Homo sapiens: one gene and its partner. The gene in region 2 interacts genetically with the main gene of each other region. Each region holds a gene or a part of one and is shown on either strand. Other genes may lie near its edges.

Region 1 (3,500 bases), on a different chromosome or scaffold from region 2:
CCGGAAAAATAATTTTTAATAATTATAATAACTAAATCTGTCAATATTATGACATGAGTACACTAATACATTGTTTGTGACATTGTACTCCTTGAAGAAAATATAGGAATCCACAGCAAAAGCCACAAAATGTTCATGTAACTCAGACTCAACAACAACTAATTATTTTTTCTTAAACAAGTCTACCCAATGCTGAGTTAATTATACTAGGAAAGCCTGGAAACAACTAAAGCTTTCAATGATAGAAAAAATGATTTAACAAAATATGTTACAAGAACAAGAATGGGTACTATACATCTATTTAAAATAGTAGTTATGAAGACAAAGTAAAAGGATAGTTCTAATTTCACTTGAAAAAATCCAAAAGATTAAGCAATTTTAGACCCAAATTCTCAGATGGCAACAAAGAATTTGCAGCTTCTTGCTCTAGCTAAGGAACACACTTTTCCTTTCCACATAATTCCCACCCACCCCTCTTTATTCATATATGTACTTATAACCTGCCTTTATAGAATTTGCAGTCATATGGATGACAGCTAAATATTATAACCATTTTAAATGTTGAAACTATTTTGCAATTTATAACATCCATGTCCCTCACGCCAGAATTTGCTCAAATTAACAGGGAGAAAAGTTGCATTAAGAATAGGAAAACATGTATGTCCCTAATACTGTTCCCAAGAACTTCTCAGACAAAATTCCAACATTAGGAACTAAAGAGATGTGGCAGTGCTGCTTTTAAAAGAAAAAGGCAGGAAACAATTCAAATATCCATTAATAGAGAATGGTTAAGTAAATTGTGGTACAACCAAACAATGAAATACTATGTAGCTATAAAAAATAAGAATAAAGAAGCTGTTTATGTACTGACAAAATGATTGCCAAGATACAAATTAAAAAGCAAGATGTGGTACAATGCATATAAAGTATATTGCCATTTGTGTAAAAACAGAGGGACAAAGAGTATGTGTGTATTCGCTTGTGTATACATGAAATATTACCAGGATACACAAGACACAGATATTACTAACTACCTCTAGAATGGGGAACTTTTGTATCTTTTTGCGTTTTTTGAATTTTGGGACTTGTAAATATACTGCAATCAAAGTATTAAATAAGGAATAAAATAGTTCAATTTAAAAGAATTGAGATGGTACTCTACTCATATTTTTCTTTTTAAAAAATTATTTAAGATACCAAAGATCAGCATTCACTAAATGGAATTAAACACACTCAGAAATATTGATAATACAGTAGATAAGGCTGGGTACAGTGGCTTACGCCTGTAATCCCTGCACTTTGGGAGGCCGAGGTGGGTGGATCACCCGAGGTCAGGAGTTCAAGACCAGCCTGGCCAACATGATGAAACCCTGTCTCTACTAAAAATACAAAAAATTAGCTGGGCGTGGTGGCCCGCACCTGTAATCCCAGCTACTCAGGAGGCTGAGGCAGGAGAATCGTTTGAACTCAGGAGGCAGAGGTGCAGTGAGCTGAGATCGCGCCACTGAACACCAGCCTGGGCAACAAGGGCAAAACTGTCTACAAAAAAAAAAATAAAAATAAAATAAAGTAGATGAGCTGTGTAACCATCCATATTTAATTAATATCAACCAAGACTTTCTTCACATGAAAAAAAAAAAAGGCAGCTACAATTCCAAATTTAGTATTACCAGGAATTCAGGTAATAGTATTTTTAAAATAATATAATGACTAATGCAGCTATTAAATCTCTTGGGGAGGACTGCCTATATTTTTCAACCAGATATTTACCGAGTTGAAACCTAAAAATAAAATATGCTATCTTAATGATACAGTCATACAATGAATATTACACAACAATAAAAAAAGAACTATTCCTACAACATGTATGAATCTCACAAACATAATGTTAAGCAAAAGAAGCTAGACACAAAACAGTCAGACTACACAATTCCATTATGTAAAGTTCAAGAACAACAACTAATCTTTGGTGAAGTCAGAGCAGTGGTTACCTTTGGAGGAGAGAGGTGAGTACTAATGATATGGACATGAGAGAGCCTTCTGGAGTGCTAAAACTGTTCTATATCTTGATTTAGGTGGTGTTTACGTAAGTGTATATACATATGAAAATGCACCAAAACACACAAGACTTACACAGTTTACTGCATGTACACCTCATTTTTTAAGGTTGTAATGCTCTTTTCTCAATATTCATTGTTGAAATTTTCCTTGAAATTTACGCATTAAAATAAAAAATCTGCTATCCAACTTACCTCCCCCATTAATTCCTTAACAACAGGCACCACGCCATTGTCTTTGGTAAAGCCCTGGTATGACATATTCCTGGCTGCTTTTTGGGTACAGATGAATATATCACCATTCACCGTCTCAAATCCAATGTACTTCATATCAGGACGAACCCAACAATTTGTCTGCCCAAACATGGTCTCAGGTCTGAGAGTAGCAGCCACCAAGAAAATATTTTTACCTTTCAGGCCACTGAGAAAAAAAAACAAATATTGATGTAAAAACATGTCAACTCTGTAACAACTATCTGATGGTTCAGAAATGATAAAGCAATTACTCTGGCAAACCTACCTTAATTTAGATGGGTATGGCTCAAGCACCTTCAATTTGAGTAAAGTATATTCCTGAGGTCCAACACCCTAAGCAAATAAACGATACAAAAATTTGAAGGAAAAAAAAGACTTGCCTTAAACCTACTAATCTATGTGAGAGATCTGATTCAAGTCCCTAAAATGGGTTCTTGCATTATTAATTTTTTTTTGCAGAGAAGAGATTGCCAGTGGTGTGCTAACTATACCCACACAGAAGTCTAGTACGTTAGGAGAGATTTGGAGTAATCGCCCAAAATAGTGTTTGCCAAAATGAAGGTGAGAAGACACAATCAACCCTAATTCCATCCCAGGGCATGTCCCACATAGTAGTCATCAAAGGAAGACACTAGACCAGAGGTCAGAGATAATGTGCTTTCTAAACTTAGTTTGCTCCCTTACTAATGGTTAGACCCAAGGTAGTCATAATCTCTCTAAGCCTTTCTTTCCTTATTGGTAAAATAAGGATGTTGCGTCTCAGATAGGACTGTCCTGAGGAACACACAAGATAACAGATGAAAAATGCTTTGAAAAATCTACAAAGGATTACTGAAATCTAGGATATTGCTGCCATTGGCTATATTAAAACTTTACTGGGTCTTAAGTCTCTCAAATCTTTTAAAATTTTGATCAACTCTCACTTAGATAAGTTACATCAAAATTGAAGGCTGATTTTGAAAATATGTTCAAAGATGGTAATAAAAAATGATGCAATCATAGGGAATCATAAGTTCAGATGCTGGCATTGTCATTGATTTTTACTTTGCCATGGATTTAGCCAAATCACTTACTCTTGATTTATTCAAGTATTTCAGAGAATAATGTTAATAATGTGTTCTACAGGAATTAGAATGAACTTCTAGGCATGGCTAGAATTACTTTGGAAATAAGCAAGAAGGCACATGA
Region 2 (4,085 bases):
GACCTTACACTGCTATCAGGAAAGCACGTACAAAAAATAGTTAAGACGGTTTAAAAAAATCTTCAAGATAGAATTGCTTATCTTGGTATTAAATGGCAGAAGTATCATAATCTCTTTCAAGAAGGAAAAAAAATTAAATATTCCCAGACTGCCCTGCATATTAATAGAAAAAAAATTCTGTTCCACTGTTCTGATAACGAAGTCAAAAGACAGTTACATTCCTCATAAGCCCACAGATAACTAGCACCTGGGCGTGGAGTAACTACTTAATTTTTTTTTTTAACTTCTGATTTTTTGATAGATGGGGATAGAATCAGAAAGAGGAAGAATGTCGGAAGTTTGCCTAGAAAAAAAAAATCTTAAGTTGGAATGATTAGAACTACTGAAATTTAACAGTCCCAAATGCTGTCTTACAGAAAACTAATTACTCTTTTCAAGTTTCAAGGTAATCTGTACAGAAACAGAACTATTAAAGTTGGAGCACTAAGAAAAATTAAAAATACATAAATAAATAAATAAAAATAAAGTTGGAGCACTAAACTGAATAGTCAGTAACACTGGGATCAATTCTCAGGACTGCTATAAGAAAAAAAGGCATATTTCTTTCAAAGATTTATTCGAGTACTTAATAAAATCATTAGTACATGATAAATTCCTGCCTTAACTCCTTTCTTTAAGAAAACTGAGGGAAACTGACAAAGCAAGCTGGTAACATGATTTTTCCTATCATTCCACTGGCTATGAGGGCATGTGTGTTTTGTTCCCCATTGTTGTCCAGTTCGTAGACACAAAGAGGGTGGGTGCTAAGCAAATACTGACTGAACACATGGATTGGTGTTTTCATTTCAACTGATCATGACTAAGTACTGTAGAAGGAAAAGTAAAAATCTCAGGAACATATAAAGTAACCAATTCAATCAGATCTTCCAATTCTGAAAGATTAGGGAAGGTGTGAAGGGGAGCTAAGATGAATCTTAATACATGAATAAGACAGGTGGAGAAGAGCACAAAAGGGTAGAAGAAAAGCACTTAAAAAGGAACCAGCATAAGGCCAGGCACGGTGGCTCACCCCTGTAATCCCAGCACTTTGGGAGGCTGAGGCGGGCAGATCACCTGAGCTCAGGAGTTTGAGACCAGCCTGCCCAAAATGGTGAAACCCCGTCTCTACTAAAAATACAAAAAATTAGCCCGGTGTGGTGGCGGGAATCCCAACTACTCGGGAGGCTGAGGCAGGAGACTCGCTTGAACCCGGGAAGTGGAGGTTGCAGTGAGCTGAGATCACGTCACTGTGAAACTCTATCTCAAAAAAAAAAAAAAAAAAATTCATAGCAGGGCAGGGCGCGGTGGCTCACACCTGTAATCCCAGCACTCTGGGAGGCCGATGTGGGCGGGTCACCTGAGGTCAGGAGCTCCAGACCAGCCTGGCCAACATAACCAAAACAACCTGGCTAAATTCAATCTCGGCTAAAAAAAAAACTACACAAATCAGCCAGGCATGGTGGCGCGCGCCTGTAATCCCAGCTACTCGGGAGGCTGAGACAGGAGAATCGCTTGAACCCAGGAGGCAGAGGCTGCAGGGAGCCGAGACTGCACCACAGCACTCCAGCCTGGGCGACAGAGAAAGACTGTCTTAAAAAAAAATTATTAAAGACTTCTCAGAAAATAGTAATCTTTCTTCTGGTTAAGAATAAAACTTAAAAAGTTATCAGTGCCTACAGATTAATCACTCTTCTGTGGTAGAAAAATTTCGACGATTCTGCACGTCAAAGCAAACAAGGTAAACAAAACCACTAATTACTAAAAACCTTTTGGATTTAGAAACCTAACTCGCCGGGCGCGGTGGCTCACGCCAGTAATCCCAGCACTTTGGGAGGCCGAGGCGGGCGGAATACGAGGTCAGGGAATCGAGACCATCCTGGCTAACACGGTGAAACCCCGTCTCTACTAAAGAAACCCCGTCTCTACTAAAAATACAAAAAATCAGCCGGGCGTGGTGACGGGCGCTTGTAGTCCCAGCTCGTCGGGAGGCCGAGGCAGGGGAATGGCGTGAACCCGGGGGGCGGAGCTTGCAGTGAGTCGAGATTGCGCCACTGCACTCCAGCCTGGGAAACAGAGCAAGACTCCGCCTCAAAAAAAAATAAAAAAGAAACCTAACTCAAGCCAGGGTGAGACTACGAATCACGGCTTTGGCTTTAAGTGCCTGTTGTACTAAGACCGATGTAATCACCTCGGTCAAGTCCCTTTGCCTTTGGCCTCAGTTTCCTCATTTGCTAACGCTGGGCAGGGAGAAGAGAGTCAAACTTTGCTGTTCTCACTGGGCATCTGAGATATGGAGGGAAGGGCGGAACAGAGGCGAGACACCCGACCCGACCGCTGATGTCGCCCCAAAAAGAAGTCAGCTCGCAGGGCTCTGGAGGCTTCAGCAAGCCAGGCCACCCAGACTCCTCGCTCCAGCAACCCCGGGGCCTGCCCAAGCCGGTGGGGCAGGAAGGAGGGCCGAAGGGCCTAACCCCTTCCTTGCTACTCGTTGACTTCCTACCTTTACTGCATACAATTTGCCGCCTTTCTGCCCCAGATACACTTTCCCGAAGGCGCCCCGGCTAATGGGCTTCACTATGCTGAATTCCTCAATGGAGGGCGGTTTTGGCACTGCGATCCTATTCACGCCCTCCTCAGTCGCCGCGCCTCCTCCAGGCTCCTTCTTGCTTCCCGCGGTGGGATCCATCGCTGGACAGCATACAGCGGCCCCGCAGACACTGCCCCTCCGCGAGCAGCCACTCCCGCCAACTGGGTTCAAAGTGAGGCTCCGCCCACGCCGCGCGCGGCCGTGACGTCACCCCGCCGCCGCGCCCCGCCCTCGTCACCTCCCCTACGCAGACGCGGACGGAGGGGGCGTCGGGAAAGCCCCGACTTCGCAGCCTTACACTCTTCGTGGGCGGCGACCGCGGCCCCACTGACATCATTCCTCATGAGGGAGGAGGCACAAACAGTTCTGGGCCGACCAGAAAAAGGACGACTGGGACTTGACTCTGAATCGCAGGATTTGAAGAGATTTCTCCTGGCTTCCCAACGAGGCTGGTGGGAAGCGGTCCTCCTCCCATACACGACCTCCCACCCTCGCGAGGCGTAGAAACCAGTTCTGACTGTACAGTAAAGCGAGGGCCAGGGCTGAGGTCTGGAAGCTAATGAAAGCACAGAAAGTGTCGAAACTGGATGAGCAGGAAGCGAGTGGCCTCCCCTGTCATCTGACGTTTTCCCAGGATGTAATTTGCCTGACTGAAACAGATCAGGACCAACAGGGAGAGTTTTCGATTTAGTGTGAGGAAAAGAGCACTAAATTGTAGCAAAAGACCTTATTGCTCAAGGCCCAGTCAGAAGATTTCATAAGGAAGCTGTAGAAAGTCTTAAGAGGAAATCAGCCGGGCGTGGTGGCGGGCACCTGTAATCCCAGCTACTCGGGAGGCTGAGGCAGGAGAATCGCTTGAACCCGGGGAGCAGAGGTTGCAGTGAGCCGAGATCGCGCCACTGTACGCCAGCCTGGGCGAAAGAACGAAACTCCGTCTCCAAAAAAAAAAAAAACGAAGAAAAAGTCCAAAGAGGGTAAAGGCTGTTCTCCCCTTAAAAAACAGCTAAAGACCTTTGGGGGCGCTGCTCCTTGTAAATGTCAACTACTTCCGCGGGAAAGAACGCGCAGGCACTTGGCCTTGTGGGCGCTCACTTGCCCCGGAAGTACTGTTGAGTTAGCGCCTCGCCTTCCGGGGCGGATTGTCTGTCGTTGCAGTAGCTGTAGGAAGGGGAGGCCATTTTCCGTTTCTGGGAGGAGTGAGGGGCAACGGGTCGGAGAAAAAGGAAAAAAGAAGGGCTCAGCGCCTCCCCGCCGGGCCGTGGACAGAGGGGCACAGTTTCGGCAGGCGGGTGAGGTCGCTGAGGGCCCGCCGGAGATGTTTTCCTTGTCGAGCACGGTGCAACCCCAGGTAAGCCAGGCATTCAGCCCATTTTTTTTCCTCCCGCCCTGCCCGTGGCTGTTTGCAAATTGCGCTCGTGGAAGCGATTTCTCAGAAGGGACTCTAGAAATGAAGTGATGT

The links.
Region 1: changes in MASTL (region 2) and LARS1 together harm fitness more than expected from each alone (negative genetic interaction), as found in Homo sapiens cells (one large-scale study listed by BioGRID).

The regions. Positions count from the first base shown.
Region 1 is NC_000005.10:146,155,151-146,158,650, forward strand, and holds part of LARS1 (leucine--tRNA ligase, cytoplasmic), read right to left. Parts: intron 2,646-3,500; coding exon 2,578-2,645; intron 2,479-2,577; coding exon 2,253-2,478; intron 1-2,252. UniProt on the Homo sapiens protein: Aminoacyl-tRNA synthetase that catalyzes the specific attachment of leucine to its cognate tRNA (tRNA(Leu)).
Region 2 is NC_000010.11:27,154,067-27,158,151, reverse strand, and holds the start of MASTL (serine/threonine-protein kinase greatwall), read right to left. Parts: upstream 2,801-4,085; 5' UTR 2,726-2,800; coding exon 2,540-2,725; intron 1-2,539. Other genes in the region: ATP-dependent zinc metalloprotease YME1L1, read left to right, coding at 3,942-3,974. UniProt on the Homo sapiens protein: Serine/threonine kinase that plays a key role in M phase by acting as a regulator of mitosis entry and maintenance.